2 separate regions of the Homo sapiens genome follow, and region 2 is linked to region 1. Evidence: fine-mapped expression QTL. A gene starts in region 1. The other region holds a variant in brackets. All regions are shown on one strand. Distances are between the middles of the regions. Region 1 holds the start of LINC02713 (long intergenic non-protein coding RNA 2713). Region 2 has its middle 340 kb from the start of CNTN5.

Evidence for each region. PIP is the estimated chance that this variant, and not a neighbour inherited with it, causes the effect.
Region 2: its variant is the best candidate, but not a certain one, in a credible set for the expression of LINC02713 in testis (GTEx, PIP 0.81).

What each region holds. Positions count from the first base shown.
Region 1 is chr11:97,953,852-97,959,246 of GRCh38, forward strand. LINC02713 (long intergenic non-protein coding RNA 2713) reads right to left here and starts at 3,232. Exons shown (of 6, transcript NR_183633.1): 1 at 3,120-3,232.
Region 2 is chr11:98,677,808-98,683,202 of GRCh38, forward strand. No RefSeq gene overlaps it. Among named protein-coding and RNA genes, the nearest start is that of CNTN5, 340 kb to the right of the region's middle. The variant G/A (reference allele first, on the strand shown) is at 3,172.

The sequences.
Region 1 (5,395 bases):
TTCTTTATTCGAAAAATGAATGACTTCTTACACTAATGTTTTATGTGTAAAGTTTTACATGTCAAGAAAAAGTCTTACTTTTCCAAGTCCAAGACTGATATAAAATGCAATCTCAATGTCTTCCCTGCCTTCTTTTGTCTCTGTAAAAATTAGCAATATTCTTCCCTCCCCTAGCTTTGTTTTTCAACTAAGGCAGGTAAATCTGCTTATAGATCAGCTTCTAACCCAAGCATGCTTACTTTGGAATCTTCCCATAAAAGTGAATCAGATCGTTTTTGGAATAAGTTGAATTCGTCAATTATTGCAGGGAGTATACTATTTTTTTCCTATTCATTGCCTTTGTTTTCCTTTAATCTTTGCTTTAGCTGGGATGTTTCATAGTTAATAGAAGTGGGAAAATATAGTGTTTTCTAAATATGTACATATCTCTATATTTTAACCAGAATGAAGAGAAGATTGAATTCAATAGTATAGCCTGGTTCTTTCTTTAAACAATTTTAAGGTCAAATGGTTCTCTTCATACTACCCTGATCAGGTGTCACCTCATTTAATTTTCAGGCAATTCACAGGGACTAGCATTCTGAGCAACAAATATGACCAGGGATTCTACATAACTCATTTAATCCTAAAAATTATATTGTTCTAATTTTATTCTTAAAAAAACTAGATTCAGTAATTCTGAAAAGATCAAATCATCATGATTAAGTAGAAGAACCTGAAGTACAATCTCAGCCTATTTGATTTTAAAATAAACATCCTTTCCAATCATCATGTTGTCTCGGATAAGTTGAAAATCTCTCAGTGTATCGCTACATAATCTTAAACTGTAAATTTTTGTAGCTGAAATGGTGAGTAAAATAAAGCAAAATAAATCATTAAATTATATAAATTTGCATGTTTAAATATAAAACAGTAGATTGAAGACTGACATTTAGTAATTCTGCTGTATTAGATTACATATATTAAATTATTTTATAAGTAAATTCAATGTTTTTGTGACTTAAACTTTTAATTAACACTTATATTAACAAAAAAGGAGCATACTAGGGAGATTCTAATTTGAACTGATGTGTTATCTTTCCTATGAAATATTTTAAAAGTCTCCTCATTAATTATTATTCCTCTGTGCCTCCTGTCGCTATCAAAAGAGTCTAAGTCTCCAAGAAATCTCTCACCACTAGAACTCATCCTCATAAAATTCTGTTCATTTCTTAAAGCGACCTAATCTTTCATTCTTTCCTTATCTCTCAAACATTTTCACTAGGTCCCTTTGTAACACCTTCTTTCATCAGTAACCCTACTCCCCTATTCTACTTCAAACTATTCTCTGAAGTCTCCTGTTTTGACTCGTATGTTGTTGAAGATGTGATAGCCAAAGGAGCCTTTAAAGTGGGAGCTGTAGTTGTTGTTTATTTCCTTCCAATAATCTATGTATTGCAAGGCATAAAGATAGCATATTTATGTATCTCATTTCAGCTCCTAGACTACTTGTTATCTCTCAAACACCAAGGATTTCTTCAAGTTGGTGCCGTTAGACTTCATTATCTATAAGCTCTCTTTGATACTGGCATCTATTAACATTTCTCATTCCTTCTCATTCTTAAATTCTCCTCATTCTTTCACCTAGTTTACCATCCTTCCCTTATGTCACTATTATTATCATTATTCTTAACAAAATCAAAATTTATATTGATGATCTACTCAATTACCTGGACTTTTAGATCATTGGCATCTGCATTTCAAATAATGTATTTCTTAATTCCACTTTATTTACTATATTCTATCACTTCAACGAATTAAAGGAAAAACATGATAATTTCATTAAAAGGACAAAAATATATTCAAAAAAGTTTAACTCTCCACTTATAAAAATTATACTCTTCGATTAGAAATATAGAATAACTTTCATAATTAGATAAAGAACATTAACCAGATGCTCATAGTCAGCATAATATCTACTAATTTAACTAAGAACAAATATATGGATAAAGATGAAAAAATATATATAAAATAAATAAATAAAAATAAATAGTAAAACAAAGGTGATCACATTTAGTGCTTCTCATAAGAATTGTCCTAAAGATTTAGACCAATGATTTTAAAAAAGAATGAAAATTTATAAACATTAGGAAAGAAGACATGTCTAGTTTTTTTCCAGAGATGATATAGAGTGCAAAATGTTGTTGCTGTATATAACACCAATATACCAAAAATGAATAGAAATTTTATAATTCAAATTATAAATCAAAGAAAATGATTAATGATGCATTTATAAGGTAAACTAATCATTTAAGATAAAATGGCAGGATCATAAAATAGTTACAAATCCATGTACTTGATATATTTAAAATTATTGAACAAACATAGAGAAAAAATTAAATAGAAATATAACGTATCCACAAATTACTCAATAAAATGAGAATACATGAAACAAAAGTATTCAGAATAAATAATGGAATAAAAAACTAAAACCATGGGGAGATGTGAGGAAGAGAGGTTAAAAAGTTTAAGGAAGACTGGACAGTCAAACATATACATAATTAGAAATCCAGATGACAAATAAAGAAAAATGGATAGAAGCCATATAAAATGATATAATAACAATGTATTTCTAAAATAAACGAAGTGCTTCCTAAGGTTTAAGAAAAACAATGAACTCAAAGCAGAATATATAGAAAGAAATCCATGTCCCAATTAAGCTGGAGAAAACCAATGAAAATTTGAAAATAGTAAAAGAGCCCAGAGGATAAACAAGCAAAGAAAACACGGATGAATTTCAAAGAAGCAGCAGTAATCCTGAAAGCTGGCCTATGGAAGCTATAGGATAATCTCATGATACATTCAATGTGATTTGTTTTTGCTAAGATTGGGAGTGAATAGCATTCTAGCTATTTACATCTTTAGCAGAAACCATAAGCCTCTGGAAATTTAATTTAATATTAAAATATCATTATAAATTCTTTGCCATATTAACAGAGTACAGAAGAAATAAAATGATCATCTTAGTAGATACAAAATAAGTCATTTACAAAATTCAACCTGTATTTGTTATAAAAACTGTTAACAAACTTGGAATAAAAGAAGACTTCCTGAATTAAATTGTATAATAATATACCTACTGAAAATGTATAATTGTTGATAAAAATAATTAAAATCTTTCTTCTTTTTTTCTTCTTTTTTATTTTGACAGACTCTTGCTCTGTTGCCCAGGATGGAATGCAGTGGGACAATCATGGCTCACTACAGCCTCAACATTCCAGGCTCAATAGATCCTCCCACCTCAGTCTCCAGAGTACTTGGGACTACAAGTGTGAACCACAACACTCAGCTAATTTTTAAATTTTTGTACAGATGGGGCTCCACTATGTTGTCCAAGCTGGTCACAAACTCCTAGGCTCAAGCAGTCCTCCCACCTTAGCCACTGAAAGTGCTGGGATTACAGGCACGAGCCGCTGGGATTTCAGGCATGAACCACTGTGCCTGGCCAGCTTTTTCTTTAAGACTGAAAAAAAGATGTGTGTCATATTATCACTTCTATTCAATATTGTATTAGAGGTCTTATCCAAGGAAATAAAGAATGATAATTCTTACAGATTGTGTTTATCTGTTTGCATTACTATAAAGGAATACCTGAGACTGGATAATTTATAAAGAAAAAGTTTTAATTAACTCACTGGTCTGTATGATGTACAGAAAGTATGGCACTGGCATCTATTTCTGGTGAGGGCCTCAGGAATCTTATAATCATGGTGGAAAGTGAAGGGAGAGCAGGTGTCCCACACGGTGAAAGAAGGAACAAGGCAAGGGGAGGTCCCATACTTTTAAACAACCAGATCTTGCATGAACTCAGTGAGAACTCACTTATCATCAAGAGCATGGTGCTAAACCACGAGGCATCCACCCCTGTAATCCAATCACCTCCCACCAGACCCACTTCCAACTTTGGGAATCACATCTCAACATGAGAGTTGAAGGGGACAAAATCCATACAATATCACAGATATTAGAAGGAATAAAACTTTCAGTTATAATATGCAAATTTCACAAATTATATACTTACGTTTAAAAATCCCGAGTATTTACAAATAAAATATTAGATTCATGTCAAAATTTAGCTATGTTGCAGGATTTTAGATCTCTATTAGATATGAGTTATTATTTACATATAGTAGTAATAGTTGGAAATTAAAAACAAAACTACTTAAAATAGCATCAAAATATTTTGTGCCTCTGAATAAATCTAAGAAAATATGCGCAAGGCATAGAAGAAGAAAACTATATAACTACTTAAAGATACTCCAGAAAACCAACATAAATGGGGAAATATACCATGTTCATGAATTTAAAAACTCAAGATGTCAATTTACAAAAAATGAAAATACAGGTACATTGCAATCTCTGTGAAATCTCTATAGGGTTTTGGAGGGTGGATGAAGAGACTTGATATGCTGATTTTATAATTTTTATAGGAATACAATGTTTTTAGTCTAGCCCAGATGTTCTGAAAGAACATATATTAAGAAAACTTTACCAGATGGAAATATTTATTACATACCTAACGTTACTACTTTAAATATTAGGTAATTACATACCTAGTATAGGTATTACATACCTAAAGTAGTAACTTTAGTAATAAATAAAGTTACTACTTAAGGTATGTAATAAATCAAAGTAAACCCACAATTAGATACCATTAAAGTAGTATAGGGTTATACTACTTTAAGGTTAGACAAAACTGAGAGTTGGCAACATTTGGCTCACAGGCAAGGCACCCCTTTTTTAAAAGTAAAGCTTTATTGGAACATAGCCATGTCCATTCATTTATGTCTTGTCTGTGGCTGCTTCTATACTACACCAGGTTGCAACAAAGACTGTATGGCCCACAGTGTAAAATCTTTGCTATCTGACCTATTAAGAAGGGTCAAGAACAATTAAGATGTTCCTTGCACAAGAATAATAAAGCAAACTAAAAAGCCAGTATCATGTACATATAAAATGTTGATATATGAAAAAGAAAGAACTGCAGAGCAGTTAGGAAAGGTCGGAAATCAAGGACCACTACTTCACACTAGTAACACATAGATACACACACACAGACACACAGACACACACACACACAGCAATTCTGCACAGCTCATATAATCAATAAAACTCCCTCTATTTGTTAAAAAAAAAAGTAGGTAAACTTGACCACATTAAGAGTATGAATTTCAGCAATATTTTTAAGAAGTGAAAAATGAGCTATATAGTGGGAAAGGTATTTTCAATACACATAACTGCTAAAGGCAATACATTTATAATATTTTTGAGTTAAAATATATTAGAAATAGATAACAGGGACATTTGCAGGAAAGAAATAATAAAAGGAAGAAAAAAGAAAGGAGAAAAGGATGGA
Region 2 (5,395 bases), 720 kb after region 1:
CCCAGATATTTGGGCAAATTGTTTCCCTATTTTCATCAATTTCAAAGAATTTTTTTATTTCTAACTTAATTTTGATGTTTACCCAGAAGTTAATCAGCAGCAAGTTGTTTAGTTTAAATGTATATGTATAGTTTTAAGAGAGCTTCTTGATATTGATTTATATTTTTATTGTACTGTGCTCTGAGAATGTGTTTGGTATAATTTTTTTTTAAAATTTACTGAGACATGCTTTATAGTTGAGCAAGTGGTCAATCTTGAAGTATGTTCCTTGTACAGGTGAGAGTAATATATATTCTGTGGTTGCTGGGTGGAGTATTCTGTTGATGTCTATTAGGTCAATTGATCAAGTGTCAAGTTTAAATCAAGAATTGCTTTGTTAGATGACCTATCTAATTCTCTTAGTGGGGTGTTGAAGTCTCCCATTTTCATTGTGTGACTGTCTAAGTATTTTTGTAGGTCAGGAAGAACTTGTTTTATAAATATGGGTGGTCCAGTGTTGGGTGCATATATATTTAGGATAATTAACTCTTCCTGTTGAATTGCACCCTTTAACATTATGCAATGCCCTTCTTTGCCCTTCTTAATAGTAGTTGGTTTAAAGTATGTTTTAGCTTACATAAGAATAGTGACTCCTGCTCTTTTTTGTTTTCCATTTGTATCATTTATCTTTCTCCGTCCCTTTACTTTGAACCTCTGGGTGTTATTACATGAGATGGGTCTGCTAATGATAGCAGATGATTGGCTCTTGTCTTTTTATCCAGCTTGCCATTCCATGTCTTTCAGTTGGTGTGTTGAGCTTATTTACATTCAGTGTTAGCCTTGATATGTGAGATTTGGATTCCGTAATTGTGTTGTTACCTGGTGGTTACGTAGAATGGATTGTGTAGTTATTTTAAAGTGTCTGTGGACTATGTGCTTAAATGTGTTTTTGTGGTAGCAGGTGTCATTCTTTTGATTCCATGTTTAGCACTTCCTTATGAACCTCTCATAAGTCTGGTTTATTTATTTATTTATTTATTTATTTATTTATTTATTTATTTATTTTCTGTGACAGAGTCTCTCTCTCTTGCCCAGGCTGGAGTGCAGTGGCATGATCTTGGCTCACTGCAAGCTCCACCTCCTGGATTCACGCCATTCTCCTGCCTCAGCCTCCCGAGTAGCTGGGACTACAGGCACCCGCCACCACGCCTGGCTAATTTTTTGTGTTTTTTTTAATTAGAGACGGGGTTTCACCGTGTTAGCCAGGATGGTCTCGATCTGCTGACCTCGTGATCTGCCCACCTCGGCCTCCCAAAGTGGAATTACAGGCATGAGCTACCACGCCCGGCTCCAGGCTGGTCTAGAGTTATCAAATTTCCTGCATTTGCTTGTCTGAGAATAATTTTATTTCTCCTTTGCTTATGAAGCTTAATTTGGCAGGATATGAAATTCTTGGTTAAAATTTCTTTTATTTAAGGATGCAGGAATTAGGTCCCCAATCACTTCTGGCTTGTAAATTTTCTGTTAAGAAGTCTGCTGCTAGCCTGATGGGGTTTTCCTTTGTAGGTGTACTGATCTTTTTCTCTAGTTGCCTTAAATTTTTTTTTTTTTCACATTAACCTTGGTGAATCTGATCACCATGTGATTTGAAATTGGTTGTCTTATATAGTATCTAGCCAGGGTTCTCTGTATTTCTTAAATTTGCATGTCAACCTCTCTAGTGAAATTAGGGAAATTTTGTGTGGGCTTTATCCTCAAATATATTTGCCACATTGCTTACTCTGTCTCCTTCTCTCTCAGGAGTGCCAGTGAGTTTTAAATTTCATTTTTTTTACATAATCCCATATTTATGAGAAGTTTTGTTCAATTTATTACATTATTTTCTCTTTATTTTTGCCTGAGTTGATTCAAATAACTTTTCTTTGAGCTCTGAGTTTCTTTTCTCAACTTAGTCTATTCTGCTGTTAATACTTCTAGTTGTAATGTGAGATTCCTGTAGTGAAATTATTGGTTCCAGAAGCTCAGTTTGGTTCTCAAAATGGCTATTTTGTCCTTTGCCTCTTGGATCGTATTACTGGATTCCTTGGATTCCTTGGATTGGGTTTCAACCTTCTCTGCATCTCAGTGAGCTCCTTTTTCATCCAGATTCTAAATTCTGTGGGTCATTTCAACCATTTCAGTCTGGTTAAGTACAATTTTGGGGGTGGGGGAGGGGGGTAGTGGGCTTCTTTGGAAGTAAGGGGACATTCTAGCTTTTCTTGTGATGATCATTTCTCATTTGGCAGGTGCTGGTATTCCTTTGACTGTGGTATAAGTTCTGTGTAGTCAGTTGGGTTCATTTCCAGATACTTTAAGATGGCCAAAGCCCTGTAGAAGATCTTTATTTCCCGGTCAATCCTTGCTCCTGGTTTCCCAGGTATGTATATTAACAGAATGCCTTTTTTTGGTGTTTTAGTTTGGGATGTGATTTAGTAGATGGTGATTAAGAATAATTGCTGATGGACATGCACTTACTCAGTTGCTTGGCTATTTTGTGTTTCTTTTCACTTGCAGGCATGCTCTGCAGTGTGGGGTGGGGAGAGAGAGACCCCCTTCTTCAGGTCTGCCCCTGGGCCTTGACGGAGCCCCCTTTGATCACTGGTGCTGCACCTGAATTTGTTTGTTAGATGTTCTGGGCCACGGGGCTTTCTCAGACAGAAGCTATAGCAGGGAGATAGGACACACTACATCCTTTCTGGATCATCCCTGCTCCCGCTGGTCCCTGAACCTGCTGTGCATCTTGTCCTTCTCCATGATCCAAGAGTAGGGGATCCAGTCCCACTCAAATGCCTACCACAGCTCTCAGCTCAGCACTCTCAAGCTGCATGCTGCAGCCCTGGGGCAACCAGATGGTCTGCCTCAGGGCCAGGCTGTTCATGGGGGATCCAAAGTGCTTATAGGTTGCTGGGAAAGTACTTAGGTAGAGTAAAGCACCCAGGGAGATCAGCGGAGGGTGCACTGTGCGGCAGCTAGGCAGGGACCCTGCAAAGGGTGATGGGCAGGAGGGCCTACAGAACAGACATGCCCCAGTCCCACAGAGAAGCCAGCAGCACCTTTTTTGTTTGTTTGTTTTGTTTTTTGTTTGAGATGGAGTCTTGCTCTGTTGCCCAGGCTAGAGTGCAGTGGCGCGATCTTGGCTCACCGCAACCTCTC[G/A]GGTTCAAGCGTTTCTCCTGCCTCAGCCTCCCGAGTAGCTGGGATTACAGAGGGGCCCCGGTGGCACCACCATGCTCTGCTAGTTTTTGTATTTGTAGTAGAGACGGGGTTTCACCATGTTGGCCAGGCTGGTCTCGGACTCCTGACCTCAAGTAACCTGCTCGCCTTGGCCTTCCAAAGTGCTGGCATTACAGGCATGAGCCACTGCACCCCAGGTCTAGCCTCACTTTCTCCTGGCCCAGCGGTCAAGTGGGGCTACAGCCTATCCGAGGAAGTTGGGAAGACCTGGGGAGTGGACACTTGTGGCCATGCTCTGCCAGAGCCACCCTGTGCACAAAAGCTCCTGGACTCTGCTGGCCAAAGTCGTTTTTGCCTACTCCCCGGGCAGATGCTCCTGCTGGCTCACAGGTCCATGAGGTGGGATGTGGTATAACCTGCAGCTATAGGATCCCAGAGGCCCATGGCAAGAGTAAGCTGTTCCTCAGTTCCCTCACACATCTCTTCCCCAGGAGCCATTCAGGACCAGGAACTAGCCTTGGCATTCGGATATTTCATGCAGGGTTCCCAGCGTCCTCACTCTTTCGCTGTGGTGTCAGTGCCACCTCCCCTTTCACTCTCGGTTTTCTCTCTGAAGATCTGCCCAGATAGGGTTGATTTACTCAATAATTTGGTCTTTTTTGGTGGCAGTGATGCTTTCTGGCTGCATGTAGTTGGACATATTGTCAGAAAATGCCTTTGGTTTTTAACTTGCTTCTGTATACATAAACAAGATATAATTATCTTAAATAGTCACTCTGTGTACAGCAGAAGCAAAATACATATTTTAGATACTATCATTAATTTGCCCCAATAATTAGTAATAATTCTCAAGACGACCATTATTCACTTCAGAAAGAAGTAGATATAGAAATAGTTTTGAGATGGTCAATGAGCTTTTAACAAATAATGTAACAGTGACTTAGACATAGTACAAGATTGTTTCTCCCTGTTAACTAGTAATCCTCACTGGAAACGCCCTAGAGATTTTATTTTAAAATATGTTACATTTTCAAATATACGTAAGATGTATAAGTCGATTATACTAACTCAGTATTATATTGTTATTGAAAAAGTTGCTTCTGTTAAACTCATGTTAAACATGTGCGAATAATATATTTAACATTCTGACTGCCTTTCACATGAACTTCTAAGAATATGGATCTTCAAACTATTGTATAATTCACTAAGGATAGCTATTTTCTCCTAAAATGATAAACTCTTCCACAATTTGACTTCTGAAAGCTCTTATGGTTATAACAGAGTGATTGCAATAGATAATAAACATAATTTTTTAAACTACAGTTCAGAATTAAAATCAATGATATAACTTTGTACATTTTTAACGAAGAGCCTGATAAATTAATTTGGGCTAGAAAATCACAGCTGAAGTATATAATATACAATGTTTTACATTTTGGCTCAATACTATTGGAAAGATTTTATGATTCTAATTATTGTAAATCTAAAACATCTGGTAAATTATCATTTTGTTCATTAGAAAACACTAGGAAGGATTATTGTTATACTAGCTTTTGGCATGTTTTAAAACAGTTACATTTTATATTCACGTTTCATACTCACTGGGACCATATGCTGTAATTATCCAAGTGAGGTCACCAAAAGGCGAAGAAAAGTAAAATTTCACAGCAAAATATTTCATTAGAACTTCTTGCACAATGGTTAGATTGTTAATAAGAGTTGGGAAAATCAACATCCATATATAACCTCACTTGCATTAGTTATTTCAACAATTTTTACAAATAGATAAATAGGCTTTTTCCTTACTAATAGAAGATATGAGGAAGAGAAAATATAAGAGAACAGAGGGCAAGTATCAAGAACAAGGTGGAAAACCTTTAAGGCACTCTATGTTGCCTCTAATGGAAATAAATGACTGTATGCAATTAAAGGATTATCTTCTAGGTACAAAAGGAAACACAATCAACATTTGGGAGAGCACAACTCCTTTGAAAGGTTGCCTTTTGAGATTTTAGTGATTTGTCTTAGAAATGCATCACAGAACTAAATATCTTTGCTTTTCCTACTCTCTAGTTTTCTCAGTTTATCCTAAATATTAGATATACCACAGAAGTCTGAAAGATTTTGGAGATAGGTAAAATGCTAGGGATCCTAATAAACAGTAAGCAATTTAGAAAAGTCATGTATGAGAAATAACAAAACACAG